2 separate regions of the Homo sapiens genome follow, and region 1 is linked to region 2. The links come from fine-mapping of genetic effects on gene expression. Tissue or cell type: whole blood. Region 2 holds a variant in brackets; the other region holds the start of a gene. All regions are shown on one strand. Distances are between the middles of the regions.

Region 1 (8,144 bases), 52 kb before region 2:
GTCATTCCTTTTGCCTAGAACACCTATTTGTTAGTTTGCTAGGGGTTCCATAAAAAACTACCACAGACTGGGTGGCTTCAACAACAGAAATTTATTTTTTCACAATACTGGAGTCTGGAAGTCCAAAATCAAGGTGTTGGCAGGTTGGTTTCTCCTGAGGCCTCTCTCCTTGGTCTTCTTGATGAATCCTCACATGGTCTTTCCTTTGTGTGTGCAACTCCTGTGTCTCTTTTTGTGCTCAAATTTCCTTCTTATAAGGAAAACTGTCAGACTGGATTAGAACCCACCCTAACGGCTTCATCTGAACTTAATCACCCCAAAGCCCTGTCTCCAAATACAGTCACATTCTGAGGTTACGGCTGTTAGGGCTTCAATATAATTTTGGGAGGACACAATTCAGCCCATAACAACCCCTTCCCCTTTTCTCTGCCCAGGCTAATTCCCATTTGTTTTCCCAAGACTGGTCCAAGCCTTCCCACTCCAGAGTAACTTCAGTGTTCTTTCTCTGTGCTCCCAAAGTACCTCGGCAAGCTGTGATCCCATTGCTCAACACACTATGTTAATTGTCTCTTTCCTTCTTCAAACTACATTCCTTAAGAGCAAAGACTAAATTCCTAGCATTGGCACAGTGTGTGGCACACAGAAGGTGTTTAATAAAGATTTGATCACTGAAGGAAAATGAAAGAAAGAACAGGAACCTTGAAGTACGACAAGCATGGGTTCAAATCCTGATTCCACAGTTTACTTATCTGTGACTCTGAGCAAGTCATTACATGCTGAACTTCCATTTTAAATAAGGTAGTTGTAAAGACAAATGACTAACTCATAATGAAAGCACCCAGCTGTGGGGCTGGTACACAGTAGGTTCTCAATAAATGTTAGATTACAGATTTTGATCTTGTCTTCTCTGACACTCAGTACTACCATGTAGTAGCTACATGACCTTTGGTATATTTACTATCTTCTCTTTGCTTTAGTTGCCTATCTATAAAAACACCTCAGTGCTATTGTGAGGATAAGTTAATATAGGTAAAACATTATCTAACACATAGTATTACATAAATGTTTCCTATTATTATAAGAACACTGCAGATCTGAACAGATAATGACTCAACTATGAATAATTTAGTTCTTTTAATTACTAAGTCATTTAAATGTGACTATTACCTTTTTGCCTCCTATTTCTTACCAACTAAACAGGATGGTAACTAAAGAGGTTCAAAACTGGTACAGATAATATAATGAGAGCTCACAATAAACATGAAATAAGACATTATCTGTCTCATTCCTTATACTGGTATTTAACATATTTGGGGCACTAAAGCAAAGAAAGTTTCAGTGGAGAATAACACTTCTCTGCTCGTATTTTAATTTTTTTTAGAGATGGCGTCTCACTCTGTCACTCAAGCTGGAGTGCAGTGGTGCCATCATCGCTCAAGGGATCCTTTGATCTCAGCTGGCACTACAGGCACAAACAACCACACCCAGCTATTTTTTATTTTTGGTAGACATGGGGTTTTGCTATGTTGAACAGGCTGGTCTCAAGTCATCCTCCTGCCTCGGGCTCTCAAAGTGCTGAGATTACAGGTGTGAGTCACCACACCCAGCAGGGTCATATTTTTATTTGCAGACTCACAAAACCTGTAAACTGAAAAGAACCTTTTGATAAAAGTCCAGTCTTATAATTTCTTACATAAGTGAGATGGATTTGGAATGGGCTTTTCGGGTCTTACTGAGCAGTTCAGTAAGAAATGGGAATTGTAGGCAGAGAGAATCAGTTTGTTCAAAAGTACTAAAGCAGGGGTTCAGGACTTATTCCAGATGTCCAAGGTGTGTGTTGGAACCAGTCTTAGACAATAACACTAGACAATCCTCTTTAACCACTCAACCTTTAAAGTCTATAATTTCTGAAGTACGTATTAGTTACCTGATCTGTGACTTGGAAGCAAGGCAGATCTAGATTTAAATCTCCCCTTGTTACATAAGCAAGTCTTTGAGCCTCAGATTAGTGTGATAGGTTTGTTAAAGTGATTAAGTGAGCTAAAGTATGAAGAGCTCCCACCTGGGGTGCCTGGCAGATTGCAAATACTAAAATGTTGGTTCTTTTTTTTTTTTTTTTTTTTTGAGACTGAGTTTCACTCTTGTTGCCCAGACTGGAGTGCAATGGCTCGATCTTGGCTCACCGCAACCTCCGCCTCCTGGGTTCAAGCGATTCTCCTGCCTCAGCCTCCTCAGTAGCTGGGACTGCAGGCATGTGCCACCATGCCTGGCTAATTTTTTTTTTTTTTTGAGATGGAGTCTCGCTGTTGCCCAGGCTGGAGTGCAGGGGTGCAATCTTGGCTCACTGCAACCTCTGCCTCCGGGTTCAAGCAATTCTTCTGCCTTAGCCTCCGAGTAGCTGGGACTACAGGCGCGTGCCACCACGCCCGGCTAATTTCTGTATTTTTAGTAGAGACGGGGTTTCACCATATTGGCCAGGCTGGTGTATTTCCTTTCAGTAGAGACGGGTTTCTCCATGTTGGTCAGGCTGTTCTTGAACTCTCCACCTCAGGAGATCTGTCCTCCTTGGCCTCCCAAAGTGCTGGGATTACAGGAGTGAGCCACAGCGCCCGGCCAAATGTTGGTTCTTTCTAACAAACCTCTTCCATCATATGAATAAGTGTGTAAGATAACAAAACACTGTCTTTCACATGGTATGTGCTTGCTAAATGTCTGAGACTTGCTGGACATTACTTAATTTTAAAAATAGAAAACTGGAGCTGGGTGTGGCGGCTCACGTCTGTAATCCCAGCACTTTGGGAGGCCAAAGCGGGTGGATCATGAGGTCAAGAGATCGAGACCATCCTGGCCAACATGGTGAAACCCCATCTCTACTAAAAACACAAAAATTAGCTGGGCGTGGTGGTGCGCGCCTGTAGTCCCAGCTACTCTGCAGGCTGAGGCAGGAGAATCGCTTGAATCCGGGAGGCGGAGGTTGCAGTGAGCCGAGATCACCCCACTGCACTCCAGCCTGGCGACAGAGCGAGACTCTGTCTTAAAAAAAAAAAAGAAAAGAAAGTTGGAATAACTGCTAGGATGATAAAATGTCTTCATCCCTGACCTTTCTCACCTCCAAATGTCCTTCACAATTTGTTTTTAAGTGTCATGTCACCACCATTAACCTGCTATTTGGAGACTACTGTACCTCAGACTTCCAAGTCAACAGCAAAGATCTAAAGGTCGGGAAGATTTACGGAGACCAAGAACTGAAAGTGTTCCTTTTGTTCCTATGGTCCATTCCATCAACTTGATGAATATCCTGTGAAGTTACCTTTTTTTTTTTTTTTTCTGACGTAGAAACAGCAGGTCTAAGCAAAAGGTGCATGAGCAAGAGCAAGTAACATCCCTATTATTATGACGCAGATTTTTTTTTAAGTTGAAATTCAATTTTTGGGCTGCTACTAAAAAGGACATGTGCGAATATCTATTATTTACGCTTCAAACTAAAGTCAGCCGTTTTTCTTTTTCAAGATATGTGGCATCTGGCTCAAAATCAATTGCAAGAAAAGCCCAACTCTATTTGACCCAGAAAGAGCTCTTTCCAATACCCTCTCCTCCCACTTACATCACAGATGGCGACTGAAGCTTAAGGTTTAATGCCCGACCCTAAAGCCACTCATCCTAAAAGACAGGGCTCCAGATGGATGCTGTATGGCAGAGGATAAGGCGCTATGAGAAGCTGCCAAGCCTCAGATGTGCAGCTGGGCTGAATACCGACGCCAGCGCCTAGCGCCCATTACTTTGCACCCACACTTAGGAAACAACCCACGCCTCACCGCGGGACCCGGACCCAGCCCTCCAGCACCCAGCCTCCGGCTCCGACGTCCGCGCGTGACCTCCGGGTACCGGAGGACCTTGGGACGAGGAGGTCCCTCCGCTTTCCGGGGAAGTTGTCAAGGGCAAGTTCGGGTTCTGCGCGGACAGCTTACTCACTGGAGTGGTTCGGCATCCTCTGTCGTCCGCCCGCGCTTCCTCAGGAAGCCCCTAATGCAGCGGCAGCCTGAAAGCAGCAGCCGAAGCTGCTGCCGCTGCTCCCACTGCCAGCAACCGCCCGGGCGTGGCAGGGACAGGCGGGCGACTTCACAACATCATCACTCGGCGACCTCGGTTCTGCGGCGACACCGGGTCAATGGCAGCCCCCACACAATTGGGGAAGCCAAAGGAGAGCCACTCTCCCAGCGGCCTCCACGGCCCCAGCGCAAGACCTGCTGGGAATTGTAGTTTCCTGCCCGCCCCGCCTCAAGCTCGAAGGCCCCGCCTTCTCGCTGCCCAGCCCCGGGGAGGGAGGCGGGGCCGCGACCCCGGCGCGGGTGGGGCGAATGCGTTCCCAGCGGGTAGCCTGGGACTGGTGCAGAGTTCCAAGCCCACGGCCCCGGTCGCGGCCTCGCCGCCCTCCCGCGCCCCGCGCCGGGAGCGGGCCTAGAGCGCTCGCCTCGCCCCTCCGCGAGCAGGGCTCTGGCGCCCGCCCCTGTCCGCACCGCTGGCAGCCTGAAGAGAGTCGCTGGCCGTGGTCGCCGCTAGGGTAAAGACGGGAGGCAGGCCCGGGAAGGGAAGGTGTCGGGGCCGGTGGGGGACGTGTGAGGGAGTGAGCCTTGGTCCGCGCACGCCCGGGAAGCCAGAGGCCAGAACGCGCTAGCCCACCTCCAGCCCGAGCACCGGCGGCTGGCGGGAGCCGTGGCAAGAATGCGGCCCGAGGTGGCGAGCAGCCACTGCGCCAGTGCAGCTCGGGCTCAGCGGGGCCCGGGCCGCGGGTTCGCAGCCCGCCCAGTGGTGCCTGCCGGGTTGGCCGTGCCGGCCGTGCCAGGTGCGCGGGGCCCAGGCCGCCCGGGCGCCCTCTCCCCGCACCCCTCACCTTTGGCCGCGCTCTCGGGCTTGGGGAGTTGCCATATCGAAGACACCCTCAGACCCCAGCTCTATCTGCCGCCTTCTGCAAGTTCGCTGCAAAGTCCCCCATAGCAGGACTAGGAAGGAACCTTTTACAAAATTAAATACTCGAGTGTCGTTTTGTCTTCGGTTTTTCAATTCAACGCTGTGTTTTTCCCTGCTGGGTCTTTGTCAAGTACCTTTTCCCCAAAACTTGATACGGATGTGTAACACGGCGCCTGCTTAGCACGGTGCCTGGCACCCAGTAGGCGCTCAGTAAAGATTTGTTGAACGCATGAGTCACTAAGCTTGGAAAATTCTCCTGAACTGTGCGTCGCTATGATCTTTGTTAAGATTTTATGGGTTCCCAAGATCACTTTGAAAATTACAGTAATTTTAAAGCTCAACAAAGAGTTACATCGGGTCATTTTTGCATTCCCTGTAACAGTGGCCTCTGTTGAATGCCTAAATTAACTCAAAACCCGTGTTCTAGAAGATGCGCCCTTTGGTTTCTACAGAAAGTGTTAATCTTTCAGATCAAAGTCTTCACATGAACCATTCTATTATGGAACAAACTGAAATTACTTATAAAGCTTTATCGTAATTAGCGTTTTGGATACAAGTGTAAGGGACTGCACTGATGTACTTGTGAATACGAAATATAAGTCTCTTAAATATGACTTTTTTTTAAGAAAGGGTTTATATTCATATCTCGTGAAAGAGCATGCCGGAGAAAATTATAATAACAGCAAATCCCCCACCCCCACCCCTTTGCTGGGTGCAGCTGCTGCCTTGACCTCAAAATGTCTTGTAAAATTATCTCTTAATAGTCTGGTGTATCTAAGGCAAAAATCTCTGAGATTAAACCACCCCATAGGGACAACCCTTTTATTACTAACAATTCTTACCAGATTGTGTCTGTTTCTTCTGAGCTTTTCTGAAAAAGAGAAAAAAATAGACAACGTAATGGAGTTTCACATTATTAAGACAAAATCAGTAACAACTTGCTGACATTGAGTGAAAAAAGCAGGATACAAAATCATGATAACCAGAAAATTTGGTTAATCATGACATCCATAACCCTTCTGCTTGTGGGAAGGTCAGCTACAAGTGGCCAGGGTCTTGTCTGCCCTGATTACCAGCGGGTGTCCACAGTGCCTGACCCATGGTAACCACTCATTAAACACTTGTGTAATGATTACTTGGCTGTTAACAGATTAACAGTGTATTGACTATGATGTGTAGTTTCTTCATTTACTTGGATATCTCCTTAGAATAGATCACTCCGGGGAATTTTACTGGGTCAAAAAGTATGAATATTTTCATGGTTATTGAAACATTTGACAACCTGCTTTCCAAATAAACCTTATAGTTTTGTACTGCCATCAGTACATTTGAGTGTACCTTTCAAAGCATAGTTCAAGCTGATACAGTGTTTGCTAATTAGGGGCACTTTGAGATGTAACTCATTTGATTTCATTCACCCTGGAAGGTTGGCAGGGCAGGCATTGCTTTCCTCCTTTTGCAGCACAGCAAACTCCAGTGCTTTAAATTGACGGTAATGAATGGTAGGTGGCTAAATGATCACAGCCTTTCAGGTCCGTCTTCCTCCCAATCTCTACCTTTGGTTCATAGTGAACATCCTGAATAAATTCACCTCTTTCTTTAGCAATAAAATTGGATATTGCTTTATGGTTTTTATGGTTTACAAAATCTTCCCTTTCTCATCCTGCTCACATATTTGTAGATGGGTTCATCAAATTTGGGGAGTTGAAATAATGAAGCACAATTTAGATGAAAGAGATGATGTTGGTTAGATGTAAAGGGATGCTCTGAACCCACAAACTTACAAGATTGCCACCCTTTCTATTAGTAAAGGTCTGGAAACCGTGGATGGTGCTTTTGTATCTCCTTGAATTAATTTCCTAGTCTGTTATTCTGATTCTTTCCCATATTTGCTGGTCAGGGACCCCAAATGATTTAATACGTAATTAATCCAATAAGAAAGGGCTTTGGAAAGTCTCAAAGTTTAGTTGTAATATGTGGAACCATTGAAAATTCTTGGGGTTTATTGTAAGTGACACTGTTTATATCAAAAGTGGGCCAAAAATTGGTTTTCTACATTGCTTTCAAATTTGCTCAGCGTTCTTTAAAAAACAAACAAAAAACAGTATAGAAAAGATAGGGAAGGAGAAATGCAAACATATTGAGGCTTTGGAAATATTCAGGACTTCTTTTTGTTTTCACTCTGCTTCTTGGTTGTGATGTCAGATCACAAATAATGTTCAGTAAAAAATAAATGCTCTTTAAAGATACTTTTCAGGAATGTCTCCTTGTGTCAAGGAGTAGCTGCCTAAATATTGGGTATCAGGGAATAGCTGCCTAAATATTGGATGGGTTTAAGGCAACTGGTTCTTTAAGGAACTTTTATGTGAATCTAAATTATTTTGCTTTTGTTTTTTATAGTAGGATATATCTGCATCTTGAAAGGAAGATAAAACAAAAGCCTTCTTTGGAATAGATGGATTTTTGTCACTTTCTGTGTGAACTAAAGTGATTCAATGTCTCTTTTGGTAAGTTTTTGTAAATATAGATCTGATTTTGTTCTGTCAGAGTAGTTGGATGTTAATGCCAAGCCATAATAAAAGGCATATTCTGATGGGATATTCTTATGCTCTGAGATATTGTTTTGACCTGATTGACTTCTGGACTTGAGAAATGAATTACATTCTCATTGAGTTTTTCTTTCTTTCATAAAGAACTTCTCGTATACTTCAATATGTTCATTATTCTAATCTTTTGTCCCATATCTACTTTTTCTCATAGGTGTTATACTTTGATATGCCACCCACACCAGTTAGCTATGCCTTATCTTTTAAATCTTTCAGAAATTCCTTTTACAAATTTCCATCTGACCAAAAGCAAGCCAAACAGTATTAAAAATAACCCCTTTGACTTAACCGAAATAAAATCATTTGGATCAATGTATATATGAGGTATAGCTGCCAACTGGTTTTCTATTTATATTTAGATCCGTGGTATCTACTTTAGATTAAGTAGCTTGAGGACTTTCATCCTGTTTTATACATAATAATAATATTTGAATAGGGAATACTTATATTAAAATGTGGTTTTTAAAAAAGTAATGAGTAGACCACGTGTAGTGGCTCACACCTGTAATCCCAGCATTTTTAGGGGCCAAGGCTAGAGAATCAGTTGAACCCAGGAGTTCAACACCAGCC
Region 2 (8,000 bases):
ATGACCAGTTGCAGTGGCTCACACCTGTAATCCCAGCACTTTGGGAGGCTGAGGCAGGTGGCTCACTTGAGTCCAGGAGTTTGAGATCAGCCTGAGCAACATGGAAAAACCTTGTCTCTACAAAAAATACAAAAAATTAGCCAGGTGTGGTGGTGCAGCCTATGGTCCCAGCTACTCAGGAGGCTGAGGTGGGGGATCACTTGAGCCTGGGAGTGGGAGGTTGCAGTGAGCTATGATCATACCACTACACTATAGCCTGTGCAACAGAGTGAGACCCTGTCTAAAAAAAATTATATATATATATAATTTATATATTAATATATATTGAGTATATAATATATATAATTTATATATGATATATATATATCCAATCACTTTTTCCCATCAACCCCCCTACTACTATAGAACAAGCCACCATCATGTTTCCCCAAGCAGTGGTATCCTAAGTAGTCTCTTGATTCCTGTGACAGAAAATGCTAGTTGCCTTCCTAAAATGTATTATCTCAAGAACTTACATTTTTTTAAGGGGCAGAAATGTCCCCTATCAAAAGAGCTACATCTTCTAGCCTCCTTTGCAGACAGGAGTGGCCATGTGACAAAATTTTGGCCAACTAGACATAATTGGAAGTTGTTGAGAGAGTATCTTAACTCTCTCTTCTGAGTGTCTTAAAACAGAGGCCGACAGTCAGGTGCAGTGGCTCACACCTGTAATCTCAGTACTTTGGGAGGCCGAGGTGGGTAGATCACGAGGTCAGGAGATCGAGACCATCCTGGCTAACACGGTGAAACCCTGTCTCTACTAAAAATACAAAAAATTAGCCGGGCATGGTGGCACGCGCCTGTGGTTCCAGCTACTTGGGAGGCTGAGGCAGGAGAATCACTTGAACCCGGGAGGTGGAGGTTGCAGTGAGCCAAGATTGCATCACTGCACTCCAGCCTGAGTGACAGAGTGAGACTCTGTTTCAAAATAAAAACAAAAAATAAAAAACAAAACAAAAACACAGAGGCCGACTTAGGTGATAAGTATGTAACTGAACTTGTCTTTTTCTTTCTTCCTGCCTGGAATACATGTGATGCCTGGAGATATAAAGTCCATCTGGTGTTACCCTTCAGTAACATGCTCATGCTGAAGATGGCTGTCCATAAAGAAAAGGAATCTGGGCCCCTGATGACGTCATGAAACCACAATATTACGATTTAAGGCACTGTTTCTAAGTTTTTGTTACTCATGCTTAACATGTTACTCATGATTAACTCATGTTAAATCATGTTTAACATGATTCTTAACTGAAAAACTTCTACACATACTGAAATTTATTCTTTTACAGTAGAATAAAGCTAGAAATCAGTAATAGAAGAAAATTAGAAAATTCACAAACATTTGGAAATTAAACAAAAAATTCTTTAAAAACCAATGGGTCACAGAAGAAATTACAAGAAAAATTAGGAACTACCTTGAGACAAATGAAAACACAACATACCAAAACTTATGGGACACAGAAAAATCGATGCTAAGGGGAGAAATTTATGGCTATAAGCATTTACACTAAAAAAGAGAAAGATCTCAGGCCGGGCATGGTGGCTTATGCCTGTAATCCCAGCACTTTGGGAGGCCAAAGTGGGCGGATCACCTGAGATCGGGAGTTCGAGACTAGCCTGACCAACATGGAGAAACCCCGTCTCTACTAAAAATACAAAATTAGCTGGGCATGGTGGTACATGCCTGTAATCCTAGCTACTCAGGAGGCTGAGGCAGAATTGCTTGAACCCAGGAGGTGGAGGTTGCAGTGAGCCAAGATCACGCCATTGCACTCTAGCCTGGGCAACAAGAGCGAAACTCCATCTCAAAAAAAAAAAAAAAAAAAAAAAAGAAAGATCTCAAATTAACAACTTAACTTTATGTTAAGGAACTATGTATACATTCCTTAATGCATACATTAGAATAAGAGCAGCAAACTAAACCTAAAGTTAAAAGAAGGAAGGAAACAATAAAGATTAGAGTGGAGGTAAATAAAATAGAGAATAGAAACACGATAGAGAATATCAGTGAAACCAAAAGATGGTTCTTTGTAAAGGTCAACAAAATTTACAAACCTTTATAGCTAAATTGATTAAGAAAAAAAGAAAGACTCAAACTATTAAGATCAGAAATGGAAGTGGGATATTATTACTGATTTTACAGAAACCAAAAGGATTATAAGAATACTATGAACATTTGTACACCAACAAGTTGGATAACTTAGATGAAATAAACACATCTCTTAAAAAAGCCAAACTACCAAAACTGACACAAGTAGAAATAGACAATTTGAATAGACTTATAAGTGAAGAAATTAGATTTAATCTCTTGACCCAGTTATCTGTGGATTTTTAGTCCCCAGATAGCTTTTATGAATACTGCTCACTGCTTTTCCTGCCCTCATTCCATGTTATGTGAGATAGAGACAAGCAAGTCCATCCTTCAGGTATCCTCCAGCCAGCTTAGAACGGACATATACAATAATTTGCAAATAAAACTATGTTCCCTCCAGTTCCATAAAGGGAATTGGGAACTAGGCTTCTGCTGCTCAAGACCAACAGTGCTGCTGTACTTAGGAGCAGATGAAAGGGTGAATACAAACTCCAAAAAACGTTTCTACTGTTTTGAACATGAATTCTAGGTGAACAGGTTTCATTTTCTTTCATTACTATAAAGATGTCACTCCATAGTCTTCTGCCTTTCATAGTCTAATAAGAAGTCTGGGCCGGGTGCAGTGGCTCATGCCTGTAATCCCAGCACTTTGGGAGGCCGACATGGGAGGATCACGAGGTCAGGAGTTTGAGACCAGCCTGACCAACATGATGAAACCCCGTCTCTACTAAAAATACAAAAATTAGCTGGGTGTCATGGCACACGCCTGTAATCCCAGCTACTCAGGAGGCTGAGGCAGGAGAATCTCTTCAACCTGGGAGGTGGAGGTTGTGGTGAGCCAAGATCGTGCCACTGCACTCCAGCCTAGGCGACAGAGTAAGACTCCATCTCAAAAAAAAAAAAAAAAAAAAGTCTGTTTTTATTTGTTCCTCTGTAAATATTTCTTATTTAAATCTGTAAATAATGTGCCTTTTGCCCCTCTGAGTAAAGGTTTCTCTTTATCATTGATTCTTAGTAATGTGATTATTAGCATGGTTTTCTTTAGGTTCATTCCCTTGGAATCTATTGAGCTTCTCAGATATGTGGGTTTATAGTTTTCATCAAACTTAAAAATATTTTGACCATTTTCTTCAAATCATTTTTCAGTTCCCCTCCCAGACTCCAGTTACATGTGTGTTATACCACTTTGTATTTTCACATGTTAGTGATACTGTGTTGTTTTTTTTTTCTATTTGTGTTTCATTTTTGTGTAGCTCCTAATCCTCTGTCTTCAGGTTCAGTGATCTTATCTTCTGCAGCATCTAATATGTTGTTAATCTCTTAAAGGTTACTATTTCAGATATTTTTTATCTCTAAAAATTCCTTTGGGGTTAATTATACCCTCTATTTTTTTCCTCATCATACTCACGTTTCCTCTACCTTCTTGAACGTATGAACTATATTTATAATGGCTCTCTTAACATTCTGTTCTATCATTGATGTCATTTCAGGATCTTTTTCTATTATTTGATTTTTCCCTACATAATGAGTCATATTTTATTGCTTTTTTATATGCCCAGTATTTTTTAAAAATACATTTTATTATTTCATTGTTTAGACACTAGGTCTCACTATGTTGCTCAGTCTGGATTCAAACCCCAGGGCTCAAATGATCTTCCTGCTTGAGCCTCCTGAGTAGCTGGGACTTCAGGCACACATTGCTGGTATACCTGGTAATTTTAAAATTTAACTTAAGAGACAGAGTCTCACTCTGTTGCCCAAGTGGGAGTGCAGTTGCAAAATCAGCTCACTGTAGCCTCTAACTCCTGGGCTCAAGTGATCCTACTGCCTCAGCCTTCTGAGTAGCTGGAACTATAGGGGGGCACCACCACACCTGGCTAATTTTAAAAATTTATTTTGTAGACACAGGGTCTTGCTTTGTTACCCAGGCTGGTCTTGAATTCCTGACCTTAAGCAATCCTCCTACCTCAGCCTCCCAAAGTCCTGGGATTGCAGGTGTGAGCCACTGTGCCTGGCCGAACACCTGGTAACATTGTATTGAATGTTAGGAATTGTGGATTTTATGTTGTTGATTGATAAATTTTTTTTTCTTTCTTTTAAATCGTTTTGA[A/T]TTTGCTCTTATGCACATTTAAATTACTTGGAATTAGTTGGGTTCTTTTAAGATTTATTGCATAGAAGGTTGTCTAGAGAAACTTTTAGTGGAGCTTTAGAAGGGGCTGATTTAGCCTCTCTACAAAGGTGATACCCTTCTAAGGATTCTACTTACTCTCATGTGTTATGAGTCTTTCCACTCTGGCTGATGAGAATATGGAATTATTGGAAGTCCTGTGTGAGTACCTATAATTTTCTACCTTATCTTTCCAGTGGTTCTTTTCCTTGCTTTCAGTAATTTTCTGCTTAGATCAGTATTCAGCCAAAGACTCCAGAGGAACTTCTTTACAGTTATCTGGAGCTTTCTTGCTGCTGTAGTTTTTTCTCTTCTGGTACCCTACCAGTTCGCCTCTGTCTGCTAAATTTCAGACTCTATCTCCTCAACCCAATGAGATCTCCAAGTTCTGTTTGGCTTCCCGCTCCTGTGCTGCTGCCTTCAGGCAGTAAACTAGTACAATTATAAGGCTCACTTTGTCCCTGTAGTGAACTCTTCAATTTTATGTTGCCTTGACATCCATTTTGAATACAAGTTTAAATTTCTCATACCAGAAATAGAGCTTGGTCACTCTTGACACAGTTTTCAATTCTATACCATGCCCAAATAGCTCAAGATGGCGGCCAGAGATTAGAACTCAGAGGCATCTCTCCTACCTGGCAGACTGAGTTCCCTGCTTTCGCACCACTTCCTTTAAATGGACCATTCAGGAATTTACCCACAAACTTAAAGTGACCCATGCCCTATTCTCTGTCACATGCTCTTCTCTCTCTCTCTGTCTGACTTTTCATTCCTGCTTCTCATGACCCAGGGACTGACGGACTGCCCTCCTGACTCACTGTGCCCTCCTTGCCCAGGATCTATAAGTAAAAAATCTTTGAACTTGTTTCCTATTGTGGTGGTATGCAAAATTTGCACCTTCCATCTGAAGAACTAGGGGCTATTCCATGCCAGGTTTTCCCTGGGATGCTGGAGGGAACATAAGGTAAGGTTCCTAGTGCCAGTGTACTGGTCAGGAGAAATAAAGTGGACACAAGTCAGAGAAGAGATAAAGGGCATCTGCTAGTATAAACAAGTTTCCTGTGTAAAGGACCCCCTGGTCTCAGATTACTAGGCATTAGGCCATCTGCCAGGTAAAAGAAATATTCTGTGAAGGCACACTGTAAACACCCATATCCAGTTCTCCTTCATTTCCTGCTAGGGTAGGGTTACTAGTCACCCTGGTACTGGAACACCAATTTAGCTGGGGGCTCCCCAAATGGTTCACTTTTTTTTTTGTTTTGTTTTGTTTGAGATGAAGTATCTCTCTGTTGCCCAGGCTGGAGTGCAGTGGCACAATCTCAGTTCACTGCAACCTCCACCCCCTGGGTTCAAGTGATTCTTGTAGTTGTAACTACAGGTGCACACCATCATGTCTGGCTAATTTTTGTATTTTTAGTAGAGGAGGTTTCACCACGTTGGCCAGGCTGGTCTCGAACTCCTGACCTCAAGTGATCTGCCCACCTCGGCCTCCCAAAGTGCTGGGATTACAGGTGTGAGCCACTGCACCCGGCCCCCAGAAGGTTCACTTTTCTAAGCAATCAGTCATATGCTGCCTTTTTCCCTAGTGTCATCCTGTGCTATCATCAATCTCTGATAGGATGCACTGAGAAGGGCACTTCACCACTGATGTATTTTTTCCAAAAACTCAGAATGCAAACATAATAATGGAAAAAACATCAGACAAACACAGATTGGGGACATTCTGCAGGATACCTGGCTAGTGCTCATCAAGATTGTCAAAGTCATGTTAAAAACAACAACAACAACAACAAAACAAGGAAAATCAGAAAAACTGTCAAAAACCAGAGGAAACTGGAGAGTCATGACAACAAAATGCAATGTAGTACTCTGTACTGAATCTTGAGACACAAAGAGTATATTAATGGAAAAATTGGACAAATTCAGTCTGGATTTAGGTAATAGTAACGTACTAATGTTGGTTTCTTAGTTTTGGCAAATGTACTATGGTAATGTAAGATGTTAACAATGGAAGAAAGTGGATGAGGGGTATATAGGAACTCTCTAATATCTTTACAAGTGTTCTGTAAATCTACAGTTATTCCAAAATTAAAAGGTTATTTTAAAAAACTAATCTACTTATAAAAAAGCACAAAGCCGGCCGGGCGCAGTGGCTCACACCTGTAATCCGAGCACTTTGGGAGGCCGAGGCTGGTGGATCACAAGGTCAGGAGATCGAGACCATCCTGGCTAACATGGTGAAACCCCGTCTCTACTAAAAATACAAAAAATTAGCTGGGGGCGGTGGCAGGCGCCTGTAGTCCCAGCTACTCGGGAGGCTGAGGCAGGAGAATGGCGCGAACCCGGGAGGCGGAGGTTGCAGTGAGCCGAGATTGCGCCACTGCACTCCAGCCTGGGCGACAGAGCGAGACTCCGTCTCAAAAACAAACAAACAAACAAACAAACAAAACACCAAGTCAACATTTACAGATAAATGATGCCAAATTTTTAGGTCAATCTCATTATGAATAGATGTACAAAATTCCTAAATAAGTTATAGCAAATTCTGTGTAGTATAACCCAGGAGGAATTATATGGGAATACAAAGATGGTTCAACATTAGAAAATCTATTCATGTAATTCATTATATAAACAAATTATAAGAGACAAATTGTGTAATTTCCTCCACAGGGGTCAGCATTTGATAAAAATTAACCCCATTCTTTTTCATTTTGTTTTGTTTTTGAGACGGAGTCTTGCTCTGTCATCCAGACTGGAGTGCACTGGCCTGACCTCGGCTCACTGCAACCTCTGCCTTCTGGGTTCAAGCGATTCTCCTGCCTCAGCCTCCCGAGTAGCTGGGACTACAGGTGCCTGCCACCATGCCTGGCTAATTTTTTGTATTTTTAGTAGAGATGTGGTTTCACCGTGTTAGCCGGGATGGTCTCGATCTCCTGATGTCGTGATCCCCCTGTCCCAGCTTCCCAAAGTTTAGGGATTACAGGCGTGAGCCACCGCGCCCAGCCCAATCAACCTTATTCTTGATTTTCAAATAAATCTTCTAACAAACTAGGAATAGGATTAAAAAAGTGCTTTCCTACCTCATGCATTGCACTTAAAATTGAGACACTAATAGAATATTCATCAGAATCTGTAACAAGAATGCCTTTTCTTACTGCTGCTGTCCAATACTGCTTAATAGTTTAGCCAAGATTAGAAAAAGAAACAACAGGTAGAAATATTAGAAGTCAGGAAACAAAACTGTGCTTAATGGATGACATGATCACTTATCTTTAAAAAAATTCAAGAGAACTGAAAAATTAAGAATAACAGAGTTTAGCAAAGTGAACCAATATAAAATCAACATACAAATATATACACGGTATTATATAACACTATGTCCAAATATTGCCTGAAAAATATAATCTTAAAAAGATCCCATTCACGTTTACATCAGAAACTATCCAATACTAAAGAATCAATCTAATAAGAAATGAACAGGAGCTATGAAATATTAATAAAGAAAATAGAGGTTACTGAATTTTCCTGGATGCAAATTTTGTAAATATATCAAACTATACCAATCTATAATTCAATGCAACCCCAATTAAAATCTCAGAGTTATAGAACTTGCCAAGATGATTCTAATACTTCATCAATAAGAATTTATAAGAATTACCAAGAAAATGATGAAAAAGCAGATATGTGTGTTCCCTGCCAATA

The links. PIP is the estimated chance that this variant, and not a neighbour inherited with it, causes the effect.
Region 1: it holds the start of STRADB, and the variant in region 2 is fine-mapped to the expression of STRADB in whole blood (TOPMed, PIP above 0.99).

Annotation. Positions count from the first base shown.
Region 1 is chr2:201,447,378-201,455,521 of GRCh38, forward strand. STRADB (STE20 related adaptor beta) reads left to right here and starts at 4,363. Exons shown (of 12, transcript NM_018571.6): 1 at 4,363-4,561; 2 at 7,369-7,475. The coding sequence starts at 7,464. It overlaps TRAK2 (trafficking kinesin protein 2), which reads right to left and starts at 4,081. Exons shown (of 16, transcript NM_015049.3): 1 at 3,973-4,081. RefSeq lists enhancers at 3,436-4,290, 3,694-4,223 and a silencer at 4,254-4,933.
Region 2 is chr2:201,499,550-201,507,549 of GRCh38, forward strand. All of the region lies in intron 13 of CATSPERT (catsper channel auxiliary subunit tau), which reads right to left. It overlaps LOC124906113 (a long non-coding RNA gene), which reads left to right. Exons shown (of 2, transcript XR_007088052.1): 2 at 1,084-3,139. Among named protein-coding and RNA genes, the nearest start is that of STRADB, 52 kb to the left of the region's middle. The variant A/T (reference allele first, on the strand shown) is at 4,242.